3 linked regions of the Homo sapiens genome follow. The protein of the gene in region 2 interacts with the protein of the main gene of each other region in a pairwise test. Each region holds a gene or a part of one and is shown on either strand. Other genes may lie near its edges.

What was found.
Region 1: the proteins of ZBTB25 (region 2) and APIP interact in binary tests that used the Homo sapiens proteins (3 or more experiments, as listed by UniProt).
Region 3: the proteins of ZBTB25 (region 2) and KCTD1 interact in binary tests that used the Homo sapiens proteins (3 or more experiments, as listed by UniProt).

What each region holds. Positions count from the first base shown.
Region 1 is NC_000011.10:34,881,728-34,885,438, forward strand, and holds the end of APIP (methylthioribulose-1-phosphate dehydratase), read right to left. Parts: intron 1,778-3,711; coding exon 1,610-1,777; intron 1,090-1,609; coding exon 990-1,089; 3' UTR 568-989; downstream 1-567. UniProt on the Homo sapiens protein: Catalyzes the dehydration of methylthioribulose-1-phosphate (MTRu-1-P) into 2,3-diketo-5-methylthiopentyl-1-phosphate (DK-MTP-1-P).
Region 2 is NC_000014.9:64,493,787-64,500,912, reverse strand, and holds part of ZBTB25 (zinc finger and BTB domain-containing protein 25), read left to right. Parts: intron 1-459; exon of another isoform or gene 460-1,472; intron 1,473-2,920; exon of another isoform or gene 2,921-2,980; intron 2,981-5,353; exon of another isoform or gene 5,354-5,670; intron 5,671-7,126. UniProt on the Homo sapiens protein: May be involved in transcriptional regulation.
Region 3 is NC_000018.10:26,454,462-26,461,587, forward strand, and holds the end of KCTD1 (BTB/POZ domain-containing protein KCTD1), read right to left. Parts: intron 5,465-7,126; coding exon 5,159-5,464; intron 1,441-5,158; coding exon 1,282-1,440; 3' UTR 449-1,281; downstream 1-448. UniProt on the Homo sapiens protein: May repress the transcriptional activity of AP-2 family members, including TFAP2A, TFAP2B and TFAP2C to various extent.

The sequences.
Region 1 (3,711 bases), on a different chromosome or scaffold from region 2:
CACCATGGAATATTATGCAGCCATAGAAAAGAACAAGATTATGTCTTTTGCGGGAACATGGATGGAGCTGGAGGCTATTATTCTTAGCAAACTAACACAGTAACAGAAAACCAAATACTGCATGTTCTCACTTCTAAGTGGGAGCTAAATGGCAATAACTTATGACTACAAAGAAGGAAACAACAGACACTGGGGTCTACTTGATGGCGGAGGGTGGGAGGAGGAAGAAGAGCATAAAAGATAACTATTGGATACTGAACTTAATACCCGGGTGATGTAATAATATGTACAACAAACCCCTGTGACATGTGTTTGTCTATGTAACAAACCTTCATGTGGGCCCCCAAACCTAAAATTTAAAACAATTTTAAAGAAAGGACTTTCTGATTACATCATCGGTTTGATCAAGATTTGTTTGGTTAAGGGAATTTGAGTTGATACCACCTGACCTGAATTTCACAACTGATCCCAATATAAAATGAGTGTCCTGTTGTAGACCACAGGGAAACACTAAAGCTAATAGGGGAAATCTATAAAATTATTTTGACATTAACATTGAGGGATAAATTTGGACTTAATGTTTCATATTTATTTTCTGACACCAACATTAAAACAAGAGAATGCTCATTCCACAATGAGGAAATTTTCTAATGAATTTTATTATCACCAGCATCTTTAAAAATTAAGAGGAATTCTCTGAGAGTATATATAAAAAAGAAATTAAAGGCAAATATTTTGCTGTTAAGGATTTAAAAATAAACAGAAACATAGAGTATAAAATTTTCATTTCACTGTGCCCTCATTTAAAATTATAAGAATATAAGCAAATAACATCCAATGTCAGAAGAGATTCAGGGTGACCATTTGCAGTATTTAGTGGCAAATTAGTAGCATCATGAAAAATTTCAATTCATTTAAAAAAATAGCTTTCATTTAAATAATAATTACGTTTAGCTTTATCTCTGTATATAATTAGACTTTCTTTTGGCTTAGACAATTCCATTTTCTCCAACTGGGAGCTGTGAAGGATCAAGTCCTACTTTCTTCATTGATACGGCAATATCAAATAAATAGTCATAACACTCACACCTGTAAAAGAAAAAGCAAAAAGAACCAGTGTTTATCGAAACAGAGTTCTCCAATCCTAAAGAATCACATTTCTCCTCTCTTGCAGTTAACTCTGCTTTGTTCCTAGTATGTATTTTCTCTCAATTCTAGGCCAAAATTCTATTTTTCCCTCAACATTTTTAAAACACAGAAAGGAATCATATTAAGTCATGCAACAATATTACATACCTCTCAGGAAATAAAAGAGAGTTTAAAATATACTGCCTACATAAATTTACATTTTTTTTAAACTAGATGTCACTTTCTGAAATAGAACTTTTGTAACTTGGGATCTGTGTCTTCTTCCTCTATCAACATTCCTAGAGCCTTGCCAAACAACAGCTCATCCAATCAATACTTCTTCATGAATGGATACATAATAAAAATAAAGTATCTACAAATAATGATAAACAATTTAAATTTAAACCAACTGACATACTTTGTTTTCCTTCACATTTAGCGGGTGGTAACTTGTTCCCCATGTTCTCTGATTTACACTCACATGGTTTTGGCCTTCTCCCATGTTTCCCCCCACACATATACTCCATGACGTCTGACCAGTACTGCACAGGAGTCTGGGTATTCATTCATTGCATGAGCCATTCTATCTTTGAGGTCTTTCTCCTCAGGTGTATTCTCAATAATGGGTACCACTAACATATCATCATATCTGTAAGACAAAACAAGCCATTTTTTTCCATTAAAACAAATCAAGCATTGATATGTATACAACATGTAATTTTTTCAAGTAACCAGTTAGACATGCTGTTTGTGTCTGAAAAGCCACTCCAAATTATGAACAGGATGTTGCGTGTTATTCTGTGTACCTTGTATAAACATCTCTATCAAAAGGTACCTTGGGAATGTGGCAGGCTTGGTCTAATCCTAAGCCTAAGTGGTGGAAATTTGTAAAATATACCAAAACCTAACAAAGAAATCATCAAGATCATATAAATGTTTCCTTGAAGCAGGGACAATCATAATATTTATACAAGGAGATGGCAAATGATATATTTCAGAATCAGAAGCATAGAAAAGATTAAAAATTGAATTATATATTAAGAATTTCCCAATTAATACAAAATCACTGTATTTCATTTCTGCAGAATCCCAAAGTATCTGAGATAGGCAAATCAAAAAACACAAGCATGGTTTGTGGCACTAGGACAGCAAGAATGTTCTGGAGATAACTCTTAAAGGTACGACGCTTTCAGAACATTCTCAAATCTGTAGCATTAGAACTTCTTTTACTTCCACTGTCCTCTCAGGAAATACATGTGATGAAATCAGAATGTAATATTTAAACACATAATTGTCACTGGCAAAATTAAGTCTATTCTTGCAAAAACTCAGATAAGCTTTCCTTTTTACATGAATTTCTCTTGTTTTGTTAATGTAACATCTGCTTTTTCACTACTTCTATAGTGCTAAAAACTTAAAAAAAAAAGTTCTAGCTAAAGTATTCTGCAATTGCTACTGTAGGGCAAGCACAGACTAAGTAGTCATCATGTGACTGATAACTTGGCCAACCATTATCATTAAGAGTATAGAGTTGCCCATCACTTCACTTAAGTAAAACAGAGGTAATTATAGACTATCCTTAACTATGGCTAGGTGCATTGGCTCATAGCTATAATCCCAGCACTTTGGGAAGCCAAGGCAGATGGACTGTTTGAGCTCATGAATTTAAAACCAGCCTGGCCAACATGGTGAAACCCCATCTGTACAAAAAATACAAAAATCAGCCAGGTATGGTGGTGCATGCCTGTAGTCCCACCTACTCGGAAGACTGAGGTGAGAGAATGGCTTGAGCCTGGGAGGCGGAGGTTGCATAAGACAAGATCGAGACACTACACTCTAGCCTTGGCGACAGAGCCAGACTTAGTCTCAAAAAAAAAAGAAAAAAGTATCCTTAAATATTGAAGGAATGAATTGCTAGTCTCAAATCTTTCCTAATATTGGCCGAGAGAACCATAAACATATTTTTCTCTAGCATGCACTCAATAGTCAGAAATATTTTCAGGAGCAAAATAATTTCACAGCAAAGTAAGAACTGAAAGCGAATTCAAGCCAGTCCTCCCACTTTACAAACATGACACTGATCCAGACAAGTTAAATGAGAAAGAGAGCCAGGATAGCCCTTTGACCCTCAAAGAGTATTGTTTTCACTGTACCATAGAGACATTGCTTCTGAAAGGGAGTACAATTATAATATAAAGTTATGTATATGTATACATTATACAACTATAATATATGTATACATAGTATACATGTATATTATATATATTATATATACCTATATAATGTATACCTATATATGTATAGGTATACATGTATAACTATATATGTATATATATACCTATATAACTATATATGTATATTATATATGTATAGTTATACATGTATATATAACTATACATATATAGGTGTATATATATACATATAACTATACATATAAAGGTATATATATACACATATATAGGTATATACATATACATCAATGTCAGACCACAGATATGATGGTGGTCCTATAAGATTATAATGGAGCTGAAAAACTCCATTATACCTGCACAGACCTGGTGGACTGAACAAAGGGGGCGAACG
Region 2 (7,126 bases):
CACCTGGCTAATTTTTGTATTTTTAGTAGAGACAGGGTTTCGCCATGTTGGCCAGGCGGGTCTTGAACTCCTGACCTCAAGTGATCCGCCCACCTTGGCCTCCCAAAGTGCTGGGATTATAGGTGTGAGCCACTGTGCCTGGTCCATGTTTTCTTTATCCATTTGACTATCCATGGACATTTGAGTTTTTCCCCCTTATTGGCAATTCTTCTGCCTCAGCCTCCCAAGTAGCTGGGATTACAGACGTCTGCCACCACGCCCAACTAATTTTTGTATTTTTAGTAGAGACGGTTTCACCATATTGGCCAGGCTGGTCTTGAACTCTGACCTCAGGTGATCCACCCTCCTCGGCCTCCTAAAGTGCTGGGATTATAGGCATTTATTTACCGTTCTGCTTTCCCTTTGCTAGCAGGAATTTTCTTTCTCTCTCTCTCTCTTTTTTTTTTTTTTTTTTTTTTGCTTTATTGGGAGAAAAAGTGCTTAGAGTGTTCAGTTATTTTTTATATTTTTCTAATTCATTTCTTCTCTGGTTACAAATCAGTCATGCATGGATGTTTTATTTTTTCTGAAATCTCCAAGCACTTTAAGCAAAGGTTTTTATTAGCCCACTTGAGTAGTGTGTTCATGGGAGTATACTTCCATTGCGAAAGAAGTATTGGTTTACTTGTATCCAGAAGTTTTAGTTACTCTTGCCTGTACTGTATTCTAGGTCTGTACTAGCATTATAATTTTCCATCTTTCTCCTGTCCTTTGAGTACCTTATTTTTTCTTTTAGAAATTTGGTTTGTCTTTAATGGACTGAGAGGAATCTTTTCCTTTCTTTCTCCGGGTTCTGATTTTTTTTAAAGGTCTATTAACAATTTGTGCTTACTGTTGTTAGTATTCTTGTGTGCTTGGCTTTATCAGGCATCCTACAATGTAATGTTGGTTAGATGGGAATTAGAGGTGCTTGGAGGTTGGCTATGTCTGCCAACAGGCAGGAGGCCCCAAACTAACGTTTCCCAGTTCCATTAAAGGTTTCTAGAGCATAACTACTCTTCCTGTTTCATCTACCCCCTCCATACCCTCTTTGCTAACATTCTCAGTAGATCTTAATAAGCAGATGTCTGGAATTACAGCAGATTTTACCTCAAACAGTATTTTCAGATTTAGAATTTCTGTATCATTTTTAGGTGTTATGAAATCCAATCTAGGTGTAATGGAGTAAGAGAGTAAATATTTCTTTTTCCTAAATACTATTTGAAAAGAAGTCTGAAAATAGTGTGTTCCTCCACCCCCCCACCCATGCCCATCCTGCCAGTTTAGGAGCACTTTTGATTCTTTTTTTTCTTTTTCTTTTTTTTTTTGAGATGGAGTTTCACTCTTGTTGCCCAGACTGGAGTGCAATGACACAATCTCAGCTCACCACAACCTCTGCCTCCTGGGTTCAAGCGATTCTCCCGCCTCAGCCTCCCGAGTAGCCGGGATTATAGGTATGTGCCACCACACCTGGCTAATTTTGTATTTTTAGTAGAGACGGGGTTTCTTCATGTTGGTCAGGCTGGTCTCGAACTCCCGACCTCAGGTAATCCACCTGCCTCGGCCTCCCAAAGTGCTGGGAGCGAGCCACCATGCCTGGCCATGGAGCACTTTTGTTTCTTAATCTGGCCAATATTTTAAGGTTACAATTAGAATTACAGTTGTTTATATTTGTTCATTTAATGTAGTCAACATAATTTCCATACTTTGAACACTCTTACGGAATTGTTTATTTATAGAGACTAGTATAAAGTTGTTCTATCTTACTTAGTTTGAACTAATCCAGAGTTATACAATCTAGAAAGTAAAGAAAGTTTTTATTGTCTCTTAAATATCAATGTAATTGTAGAGTGTGAAATAATTTCTTGGGTTTCCTTGGTCCCGTGTTCTTCTGAGGCAGTGGTTCTTAACTGAGCAGTCACGTTAGAATCACCTGGGAAGCTTTTTAAAAAAAGAATCTGGGCTGGGCGCGGTGGCTCACGCCTGTAATCACAGCACTTTGGGAGGCCGAGGCGGGTGGATCATGAGGTCAGGAAATCGAGACCATCCTGGCTAACACAGTGAAACCCCGTCTCGACTAAAAATACAAAAAAATTAGCTGGGTGTGGTGGTGGGCGCCTGTAGTCCCAGCTACTCGGGAGGCTGAGGCAGGAGAATGGCGCGAACCCGGGAGGCGGAGCTTGCAGTGAGCCGAGATCGTGCCACTGCACTCCAGCCTGGGCAACAGAGTGAGACTCTGTCTCAAAAAAATAAAAATAAAAATAAATAAACAAATAAACAATCTGGCCGGGAACAGTGGCCTACGCCTGTAATCCCAGCACTTTGGGAGGCCAAGGCAGGCGGATCGCCTGAGGTCAGGAGTTCAAGACCAGCCTGGCCAACGTGGCGAAACCCCATCTCTACTAAAAATATAAAAATTAGCCAGGCGTGATGGGCACCTGTAATCCCAGCTACTCAGGAGGCTGAGTCCGGGAGAAGCACTTGAACCCAGGAGGCGGAGGTTGCATTGAGCCGAGATCGCGCCATTGCACTCCAGCCTGCAGCCTGGGCGACAGAGCGAGACTCTGTCTCAAAAAAAAAAAAAAAAGAATCTGTGCCTCACCCCTAGCAATTCAATTCTGTTTGGGCTAAGCCTGGGTTGGGACTCAGACATCAATACAGCTCTGCATAGAAGGTTTTACAGTATAGTCAGCAATAAGAACCTCTGTTTCAGGATAAAATGATTTCTACAAACATTGTTTCATTCTCTACATAATTAAATGTCACACCTCTACAGTCATGTGAAAGTTCCATTAAAAAGTTAGTCGCTATATAAAGTCTTTTATCATATGGCACTTGAAATATTTTGCTTTTGCCTTTGTATTTATAGCCATGAGTAAGTAGCTCAAAAAAGATGTACATATTCCTCTGCCAACTTTCCTGTCTCCTTGTCTGAATGAAAATTCATCATAAAGTCTCAGTGGTAAGCATTGACAGAGAAAATACCTAAGACTGTTTTCCTACAGAAACAGTCGTCTTGCTCTTTTTGTTCCTTTTTTATTAAGGATTCTTACAGCCTGAGAGAATGAAGAGCTGTGTAGTCCAGGATATCCGGCTGGCTACCATAGATCTGAGAGTCCAGTCTAGTACAGTAGATTTTTCTAAATACATAAGAATCAAAGATATGTATTGAATATCAAGCCAGCTTTAAACAAACATAGATACTAGTATAAAGTTGTTCCATCTTAATTTGAAGTAATCCAGAGTTACTACAATCTAGAAGGTAAAGAAGGTTTTTGTAATCTCTTAAATATCAATGCTAAAACTATTATGATAATGTATCACTTTGATAACAGATAAAACTTTTAAAAATGTAGCACTCATATTTTGATTCTGGTATTTATAAGTATAATAAAATACTTTATTTTTCCATAATTTCTCTCACATCTTAAAATTCTCACCAGAAATTCTCAAATGTAACTTCTAAGCTCTTTCTGTATTCATGGGAAACTTTAGCTATTTCACATACTAGAGAAAATAAAATAGACAGTCAAAGAATGATGAGCAAAGGCTATACAAAAAGTCTAGCTAATAATTTGCAGAGTAGGTTGTATTAGAAAATGTTCTAATAACTCAATGGAATGGGGCTATTGATTTGAAGTAAAATCTGGTATATTACAACATCAAAGATCTCCTATTATGCAAAACAAGTTTGAATGCACCTCATGTGTACTTGGTGTTTTTTTTTTAATAGATTTTAATTTGTTTCATTTTATACACTTGAAAAGTTTACTCCCTTATTTGATTCAACATATTTGCAAAATCTGCCAACAGTGTAAATGTTGAAAGTTCTAGATGGGGTTTTGAAGAAAGGGCCCTGGGTTTAAACTCAGTCTTGATGTATTATCAGCACCATTTAATAGCTAGTTGTTTGACTTCAGGTATGTTTCCTGCCTTCTCTGAGCCTGTGGTTTCTCAGCCATAAAATAGAGCTGATAGTACCTGCTCTACTACCTCACAAGATTTAAAAGAAAAAAAGATAGTGTAGGGCAGTGGTTCTCAAAGTGTAGTCCAAGGAGCCACTGGAGGTTTCATGGGTCAATAAGGATCTCCCTTATGTAAGAACAGATTCTCAATATACTTGAACCAAAACAAGAGATGACAACAGATTGAATGCAGAATCAGATAAGAGAGTCCAGCTGTATCTGTTAAAGCCAGATATTAAAGAGGATTGCAAAATGTAAATTAATATCACCCTTCTCACTTGTTTTTGAAAAATTTTTTAGGAAAAAATATGTTAATATGTAATGGGTTTATTGCTATTTTAAATATTTTAAAATTTCTTTTAATTTTGAATATAGTAAATATTGATAAATATAACCTATATAAACAACAGCTCTTCACAATCTCTAATACTTTTTTTTTGAGATGGAGTCTCGCTCTGTAGCCCAGGCTGGAATGCAGTGGTGTGATCTCGGCTCACTGCAACCTCTTCCTCCCAGGTCCCGGTTCAAACAGTTCTCCTGCCTCAGCCTCCCGAGTAGCTGGGATTACAGGCACACGCCACTGTGCCCAGCTTTTTTTTTTGTATTTTTAGTAGAGACGGGGTTTCACCATGTTGGCCAGGCTGGTCTTGAACTCCTGACCTTGTGATCCGCCTGCCTTGGCCTCCCAAAGTGCTGGGATTACAGGCGTGAGCCACCGTGACTGGTCTGTAATACTTTTTAGAGTGTGAGTGGATCTTGAGACCACAGCTTTTTAGAACTGCTGATAAACAGTAATGGTTGAGTAGGGCTGCTCTGCCTATGGAGTAGCCATTCTTTTATTTATTTTCTAATAAATTGCTTTCGTTTAAAAAGAACACAATGTTGGGGGAGGGGGTAATGGTTGAATAGTTCCTATCAGGACAGTTTCCTGCAGATAACTATAAACTTGATACACTTTTTTTTTTTTTCCTTTTGAGATGGAGTTTCGCTCTTGTTGCCCAGGTTGGAGTGCAGTAGCGTGATCTCAGCTTACCGCAACCTCTGCCTCCCAGGTTCAAGCAGTTCACCTGCCTCAGCCTCCAGAGTAGCTGGGATTACAGGCATGTGCCACCACACCCGCTAATTTTGTATTTTTAGTAGAGATGGGGTTTCTCCATGTTGGCCAGGCTGGTCTCGAACTCCCGACCTCAGGTGATCTGCCCGCCTCTGCCTCCCAAAGTTCTGGGATTACAGGCATGAGCCACTACGCCCAGCTGATAAAAGTTTTAAAAATTAATAGATGGCATTTGAGAATTACAAAAACTAGATTGAGGTCTGCAACTGGAAGAGGAGAACAGCAATGAATAAGCTTCTGTTTTTATGGCTTTTAGACTGGCATAAGGTCCCAGCTGGTGATATGAAGAGGTGGCTACAACTGTAATAACAACCTGTAATCTCTCTTGAAGAAAAGAGGACAGAGCTCACAGTGATCATGCAGCTGGAAAGTGCAGGAGAAAATCCTAGAAAGAATGTTGGAGTGGCAGAACCCCAAACACTGTTTATAAACTCTGCTTGAATTTCTTGCAAACCCCTCAACTGTACATGTGTGGAGCAGCCTCCAAACAGCACACTTAAGGCTAAAGGAGCAGAGATTTCAGCTGCTGTCCACCATAGGGGAGGCAGAACTTGGAGTTTAAGTCCAGCTAAGGTAATTGTCTGCAAAAAACAAAAACACAAACACTCTTTGGAAGAATATTACAGAATCTAGAGTGAATTGTATTAATCACAATACCTAGACTATAATCCAGAAACAATCACCCTAATCAGTGGAGACTGACCCCATAATTAGCCAAAGGTTGGATTTAGCAGAGAAGATTTAAAGCAGCAGCTATTATAACTATGCTCAAGGATGTAAAGCAAAATGTTGTATATGTGAACAAATAGGAAATCTCAGCAGAGAATTAGAAACTTTAAAAAAGAATGAAATGAAAATTTTACATCTGAAAATACAATATCTGAAACAATCTTGAATAGATTTAACAGATCAGATATGACAGATAAGTCATTTAATTTGAGGATAGATTAATAGAAATTATCTAATCTGAAGTAGAGAAATAAGTTATTGTATATGAAAGTTCTCTGTAAACTTCAGTGCTCTATGTAAGTTTCAGAGTTTATTACTCCAGGTTTCTTTCATATGTAAAGGGAAGAGGTATGTTTGGGTCTTCTGATCTGCAGCTTCCTTAATGTCCTGTCCTGTCATGTCTGTGTCTAAGCTTTATACCCTCTGGTTTCTTTATTTTTATTTTTTTATTTTTTTTTGAGACAGAGTCTCGCTCTGTTGCCCAGGCTGGAGTGCAGTGGATCTCAGCTCACTGCAACCTCTGCCTCCTGGGTTCAAGTGATTCTTCTGCCTCAACCTCCCAAGTAGCTGGGATTACAGGCATGTGCTACCACACCTGGCTAATTTTTGTATTTTGAGTAGAGACGGGGTCTCACCATGTTGTTCAGGTTGGTCTCAAACTCCTGGCCTCAAGTGGTCCACTCACCTTGTCCTCCCAAAGGGCTGGGATTACAGGCGTGGGCCACTGCGCTTGGCCTAGCCTCTGGTTTCTAATATCCCCTGCAGTCAGATATTTGGCCCTTGCTGCTTTCCTGTACTATTGTCAGAGGTTACCAGGAATCTTTTGGTCAGTACACTCGACATGTTTGTAATGGGCCTCACCCCCATGTTTCTCTTCAGTGTTTTGCACCATTGCCATCTCCTTTCTGCAAGGTCATTGCCTTTCCTCAATGACGATGTTTTCTTTTTTCTCCTCCTCTGTCTTATTTTGTCTTTTCTGTTTTCCAAAGATTCATTCTTAGCTTTTTTCCCTCTTATTTCATTCTACTTTTTAGTCTACTTTATTATTTTCATACTTGGTTACTTCAGCCTTGTCGTTTCAGAGGCCTCTTCTCCCTCTCTGGCTCTGCTCTCTCTAGAGCCCTGTCCTGCTTCTTGTCCCCGCTGATCACTAAACATTTCTACTTAGATACCTGGTAGACACTTGGAGCTCAGAGTGTCTGAAGTGAAACCCCTATTCTTCTTCTTCTTTTTTTTTTTTTTGAGGTGGGGTCTCAGAACCTCTTATCAAGACGGTTTCTGTACTTCTTCTCTAATGTTC
Region 3 (7,126 bases), on a different chromosome or scaffold from region 2:
CTGCCTCCTTCTTGGAATCCACTTACCATGTTGAGAGGGGCCCAAGCCACATAGAGGCCAACAGCCAAGTATTTGCAGCCATCTGGGTGAGCCATCTAGGACATTCCACGCCAATCAGACCCCTGGATTGGAGCAGTGGAGCAGACATGGAGCAGATGCAGCCCAGCGAAGGCCAGTATCACAGGCCAGAACAAAATGTTTTAAGCCATTAAATTTTGGTGTGACTTGCTCTGCAGCCAGATAACTGAAATAGGTGTAACCGAAAAGTCCGTAAGAAGGAAGATTTACCTTGCTGACCAATGCAGAATAACAAAGCACAGGAAATAACATTTGCTGGGTCGGAAGACAACTGTCTGGAACAGGTGATGACATCCTTAGCCTTTAGTAGGTTTTGACTTCAAAACTGACCCCGGCTTTCATGCCTCTTTTTGATGCTCAACACGGACAATTTCAAAAAGAAAAAATTTCACTTTAATCCAGCCTCACCCCCACATGTGTGTTTCACACAGACCTTATTTTTTAAACAGAGTTTATTGTATTTAATACATTATAAAATTTGAAAAATTGTAGGAAAGCAGCAGACTTGAACTGGAGCAATTCTAACAAGGAATAATTCTGGCCCCTTGGCAAAACTGATCAGTTTTAAAACAAAGTAAAGTTCACATCTGTGAGGTGGACAAAAAAGTGTGACTTCTGTACAAACTACATTTAAAATTTCATGTCTAACATCTTTGCAATGTGCTCATGAGGGTTTTTCTGAAGTCCTGCCTGGTCCCTGCCTAAAGAAAGACGTGGAACCTCCATATACAAACAAACTTGATTCAAGGTGTTTTGTTTGTTTTGTTTTTTTAAAAAAAAAGGAAAAAGAAAGACAAAGGAAAAAAGAAATATGGATGGCTGTTGTTGGCAATGGAAACTGTAAGGAGACTGTGTCCTCACCACTCATGGCTTGTTTATTTGTCAGAGGCCTCGGAAGGCCCAGGACACTTCACGGCCATCACAGCACCAACTGCGGCTGTCACCTTTTTTTTTTTTCTTTTTTGCATTTCCTACCTTTTGACATATATATATATATTTATATATTTTTTACACCTTGAGGATATCACTATTCCAATTGTTCCCATATGAATACAGGTGTGGTCTCTATTGGATATAAATGTGTCTTTTATTCGATTTTACGTCCAGGACTTGGTTTGCTGTCCCAACTGCACATAAATGTCCCTTTTTTGTTTGAGTTATTGGTTGTGTGTGTTTTCCTTTTTGCATAAGAAATATGTCCATTTAGTCCAGAGGCTCTTGCTTTATCCGGATGACGGAGGGTACACGGGGCGTCCGCCTCAGTTCCCGCCGAAGGACGTATTCGCTGAACTGGGACGAGTCTACTCCTCCCCCACAGGAGCCCACGATTTCAAATCCTCTTTGCTGCAACCTCTCGAGGACCTGCGAGGGAACAAGACAAGCATCCAGTTAGGGGTGAGGTAAGTCCTATGGCTACATAAACACCCCAAAGTTTGAGATTATGCGCACTCTGGTTCATCTCATCCAGCACCCATGTCCCTGTGAGCTGCTCCTCTCAAAGGAAGACCCTGGATTAATGGGCAGGAGAGAGGAAGCAAGCATTTCTAATGCCTAAAATGTGCCTTTCATGCTTGCTTTACACACACCAGCTACAACACTCGATGGTGTTAGGCCCATTTTATAAATGAGAAAACTGAGGTTCATGGCTAGTCAGTGATGGGACTGGGTTTCCAACTCAGGTCTGTTTGGCCTCAAATCTCCTGTTTTTGTATATGCAATGCTGCCCTCTCTGTCAAAAATGAGGGTTCACATTTCAAAGCTCATTTATCACTAAAATACATCCTATGAGATGATAAAGAATCTGGAAAGGACAGTGATGGCAGAGTTTACTTAGTCAGTGATTCATTTGTACTCTCAACTCCGCCTTTGTTCAAGTTTTCCTAATACCGAGTTAATATATATGTTTTGGCCTGGAAGATTGATGTAATTTCAATAGCAGAACAAAGGGATTACTGAAGACACTAGAGGATTATCTACAGGTTTTCAAGTTTGTAACATCTGAAACAGATTTATTGCCCTGCATTCATTCAAGGAGACAAGAACCAGCACAATGATTACATATTAGAAAATGTAAGAAAAATAAAGATATTCTAAACTTCTTATACAAATGTAAGCCATAGAATCTGTTCCTTAATTTTGAAATCAAAAACCTAACGCCAGCAAGATTCCTGGGTTTGGCACTACATGTCTGACACTGTTAAATGCAGGAAACAGTACCTGTGACTCTTAGATTAGATAGACAAAAATACAGGAAACTGATCTGGAGCATTCTGTTTCTTTAGGAATCCAACAAATATTAGACTTGCAAATGTTTCCTGCCCGAGTTCTGAATATAATTAAATTACTTCCACACCACCTTAAAGGCAAAGTGATTCAATCATAACTTAAAAAAAAAAAACAAAACAAAAAAACCCACCTCAAAAAAACTTTTATTGGAATGAACTGAAATGTAGTCAATGTAAAGTGAATCCTTACTTTTTTAAAAAGTATTATTTTTTAGTTGCCTACTTCAATATAGAATATAGTCTGCTATGTTGCAAAACAGCTTACTAGATGAGATGGGAAAGCAAGAGAGTATGTTTTCTAAAAATTAATTAAAACCTCAAGTGCTGGCAAATTAAAAAAACATACACAAGTCCTTATAAGAACAAAATTAACATTCTACCCAGCAGTGCTCTATTTCTGTAGGTAAATTCACAATGCATATGCATACCTGTCAGCATAAGGACAGGAAGAAAACAATCCCTAAATTCAAAATCAAGATGTGCTTTGGTGGCAGGTAAATACAAAGACGAAGAACAGCTCCCTCCATGGATTCCCCAGCAGAGGCAGGAATGCAGCCCTCAGCAAGAGGCATCCCAGCTTGCTTGGCCAAACCAGCACCCTGGAAAAGATCCCTTGCCATGATTAGGAGAGGAAATCCAAAGGGGAGGAAGCCATGAACAGCAGAGAACCTAACCCTGATGTCCATTTTTCTTTGAGTCTTAAGGTCACTAAATGCTAACAGGAGGAAATCGCTAAGCTCTTCTTCGGAGTCCGATAGGCATCATGTGATAATTATTCAATGTGATCCAATGTTACCTTGGATGTGGTCAAAAGCTTATTTCAATGTAATGCAAACAGCTGATGGAGCCATTACTTTGGAAACAACAACACGTTCACAGCAAAGTTCCTTAAACAGTGATCACACAACAACTTAGTGAGGTATCGGGTGTCGTAAGCCTTATCCCAGAGTCTCTGCGTGCCCATAGGCTGGTGCCTATTTCTTGGTCGGTGGAGCAGGACGCAAGGGTAGGTCATGGCTGTGTCATATGACCACGTTAATCCAGATGAAAATTTCCATATCTGATGTGGGAAACTGTCAAGCACATGAATTGATGATCGTTATTCACTGGCCCAAAGGTGTGGCCGAGGCCTTCCTGTCCTGGCTCTGAATGGTTCTGCCCCTCTGTCTGCTCCAGTGATAGCCAGGGCAGGCTGTTGTGTGGAAGGGGACAGGCTTTCTGGGCTTTAAAGAGGCTTAAACTGCTGAGGCCGTCTCAGGAACGCTGTGCAGGGCCATGCGGGAGCACCACACACCTCCAGGGGACGCTCTCCGCACAGGTGAGAACGCGAATCTCGTCCTCGGGAACCCTGCGACCCAGCAGCCAGCCCGCCGCCTGGGAGCATGTGCCTTCCGCTAGCATGCTTAGGGAACATTTTCTGCCAGTTTTCTGCTCTTCTGTTCTCAGACATCTGTTCATATATTTTAAAGAGTTATAAATAGTAGTGGAACAATCCTCAAGAGGCAGCACAGAAGAGTGGGTGCTTCTAGTCTCTGTGCTTTGGGAAGGGTTCTGCTGACTAAATACTGAACAAAGTCATGGGCCCATTCCAGTTAAAAAGAGGGAAAAAACTAGAACCCTCACTCCATTGACTTCAAATGGTTTTGTGTCACACGGAGCTGGAATCGAGACCCAGGTGTGCCTCTGCCTTCCCATCAGCAAGACAGAGAGGATTAACAGTGCTTACCTGTTAGGGTTGTAAGAAGACAACACATGCTCAGGCCATGGCCCAGGGTAGGGCAGAGAGTCGGTGCTCAGCACACATTAGCCTCTGAGTTCTCAATTCCACCCCCACATCTCTTGCTCCCCTACACTTCTCCATCTCAGGAAATGGCAGTTCCACTCACCCAGTTCCTCTGTCAAAAATCTTAGTCATCCCGGGCTTATGTCTCACAACCCACAGCCATCGTCAGAAAACCTTATTAGCTCTACCCTCCAGACACACACAACTGGACACTTTTCAGCTGCTTGAACCACAGCTTGCTGCCTGGTCTCCTTGTTTCTCCTATTCTCTAGCTGCTGTCGCAATGTTCACTTTAAAATACGAGTTCTGTCAGTTCTCCCTTCTGCTCAAAACCCTCCAATGGATTTCCATTTGGCTCACATACACAAACGAACCAAAACCAAAAGATGCCAAAATAAACAATCCTAGGGCACTTGCCACCTCCTAACGAGGCTCTCCGTGATCTGTCCCTGATTTTCCCGGGCCTCCTGTCTGGGTACTCTCTCTCCCTGAGTCACTTTCTTCAAGCCAAACTGGCTTTCCTGATAGTCCTCAATATGCCAGCATACTCTGCCCCAGAAATCCACTTACCACCTCCTGGGCAATATATTTATGTTGACTGTTTGCCTCCCACTCCACTCCCATAATGCAGTTCCATGAACACAGAGCTGTCCATCGTGTTCTGTGTCTGTCTGTCTCACTATGTTGCCCAGGCTGAACCTGAACTCCTGGGCTCAAGTGATCCTCCTGCCTTAGCCTCTGGAGTGGCTGGGACTATAGGCGTGTGCCACCGTGCCCAGCTGTCGTGTTCTATATCTGTCTCTTCTGTATCTCCAGTGCTCATCCCAGCACCTGGCACAATCACAAGACTTACGGAATGACTGCTATAGAGGGTGATAATTCACCTACCCAACAGAAGTGTCACTGAGTGAGTTTCTAAGCTCTTTGGAGGAAAGGCACCATGTGAGGGCAAGGTTAAGTGACAACAGTAAGAGTGGCATTTGATGCCACACAGTGCGTAACAATGCTATACCTGGACTGAGTTGAGGTGACAGTAGCCATTTAGTGGAAACCTGATGACGTGCGTCGAGTCGTGATTCCAGCCTGCATTGACAGAGTTACACATCACGTCGCCGATCTCTGGAAATACTTCTTCTATCAAGGATTTGTCACCGCTTAGCGTGATCCTTTCTCCGAGGTCTGGGGCCACACGCACGACGAGGCACTCACAGGGCCTTGAAAATCGACCAGTTTCTCTGTCCTGCTTCCATCTTTCCATCTCCAACAACATGGGCTGAAGCTGAAAATATTTTGCCTCTTCATATAACAAAGTGTAGTCCTGGAAAAAAAAAAGGTATTTCACAGTGCAAACTGCAAACATAAAGTACTAAACATGTCCACATCTAAGAGGTGATTTTTTTCCACTTCTTGTTATGTCACTAATCAAATCTGCATGTGCGTTTTTCACTTACGACATGTTTGTAGAGGCTCAATTTGCATTCATTCATTCATTCATTCATTCAGTGAAGATAAAAGGAGCTGAGTAGATTAGGGCTGGTCAGGCCTCTTCTAAGTGCTTTACATGATTTAAATCCTGTAACCCTCGTCAATGCCCAGTGAATTAGGAACCACTATTATTCCCATTTTGCAGATGAGAAAACTGAGATGTGAAAGGATTCACCCAAGACTTGTTTCTTTTAGTAGAAAAAATGTCTTTGGGTATTTCAAGTTTGATTGTGTCGGTGAGAACCCAATTTCTATCCTCTTGGATGGAACGCATATATTGACCAAGGGGAGGCATAAGCTTGCCAATGGGCACCCTTCATCAGAAGCTCCCGGTCACCTTTGGTGGCCACAGGAGGGTGTGGGACAGAGATATGAGGCTAGAGACAGGCAGGGATGGGCACCTGGAGGGCAGGCATGTGGCTTTTACTTGAACCTAGGTGTTGATTTGTGATGGTTTGGGGGAGGCTGGTGGACAGCTGGAAGGCTAGTGTACTGCCCTGTGCCACCTGATGGAGCTGCCATCATAGAGTCAGAGACATAAACAACTTTAGGCCTCGACTCCTGCAAGATGTGCAATAAAGAAAACCTGTCCATTTCTGCATTTCTGAAAGCAAGAACACCTGGTCTTTTGGCATGGTTTCCTTTCCTCCAGCCTTAAAATAATCTGTTGAATTGAAACAGAAACCTAACAAAACAGGTATTAAAACACACACATAAGCCACTGAATGGGAAGACAAAAGAGAATGAGGGGGAGGCAGCAACTCAGGAACAATGTTAACAAGCAGGTCAATGTTATGGCTAAACGTAGCTATGGCCACAATCATTTCTGGGTGTAAGATAAGTGGATACTTGTCTAGACATGTTGACTGAGAACATTTTAATCAGCTGACACAGGCATTTGTGCCTTCCGTCCATGGGCAAGAGCTGGCAGGGGATGCCCAGTGCCTGCATGACAGCCAATGTTGCAAACATGTGGTCCGAGTGCCTCAAAGAGGCCCCTGATGTCCAGATGGGCTAGAGTATGAGAAGCACAAGATGACCATGGGATAAATATTTTTATTTTGCACTTTGCTCTTTCTCTTGCAAATCAAGCAATAGCAGCAGCAGCTGTAGCGGCATTATTCAACGCTTCCAGAGAAAACAGCATGGAGAGATGACAGTACTTGGGGGTCTTTAGCTGGGTAATCCACTTTCCATATAAAGAAACTCAGATCAGGTAGAAGATGCTGATGACGACACTCATCTCAGTGGAATGGGCTGCTGCTTTATTCTGTCCTTTTCCTGGCAACCCCCTTACCACAGGAGTCTTGGTTCCCTGCAGGAAAGGAGCCCACTGCTCTGAAAATCTTCCTTGCACATGTTCTACCTGCTTAGCCTCCTGACCCAGAGGAGATACTGTTTTGCTTTAAGGAGCTGAAAACTAGGCTGAGGTGTGGCCACTCTTAAGACAGGGCAGAACCGGGGCCCTTAGCCCAGCCTGAGGGGTAGGAGTGGG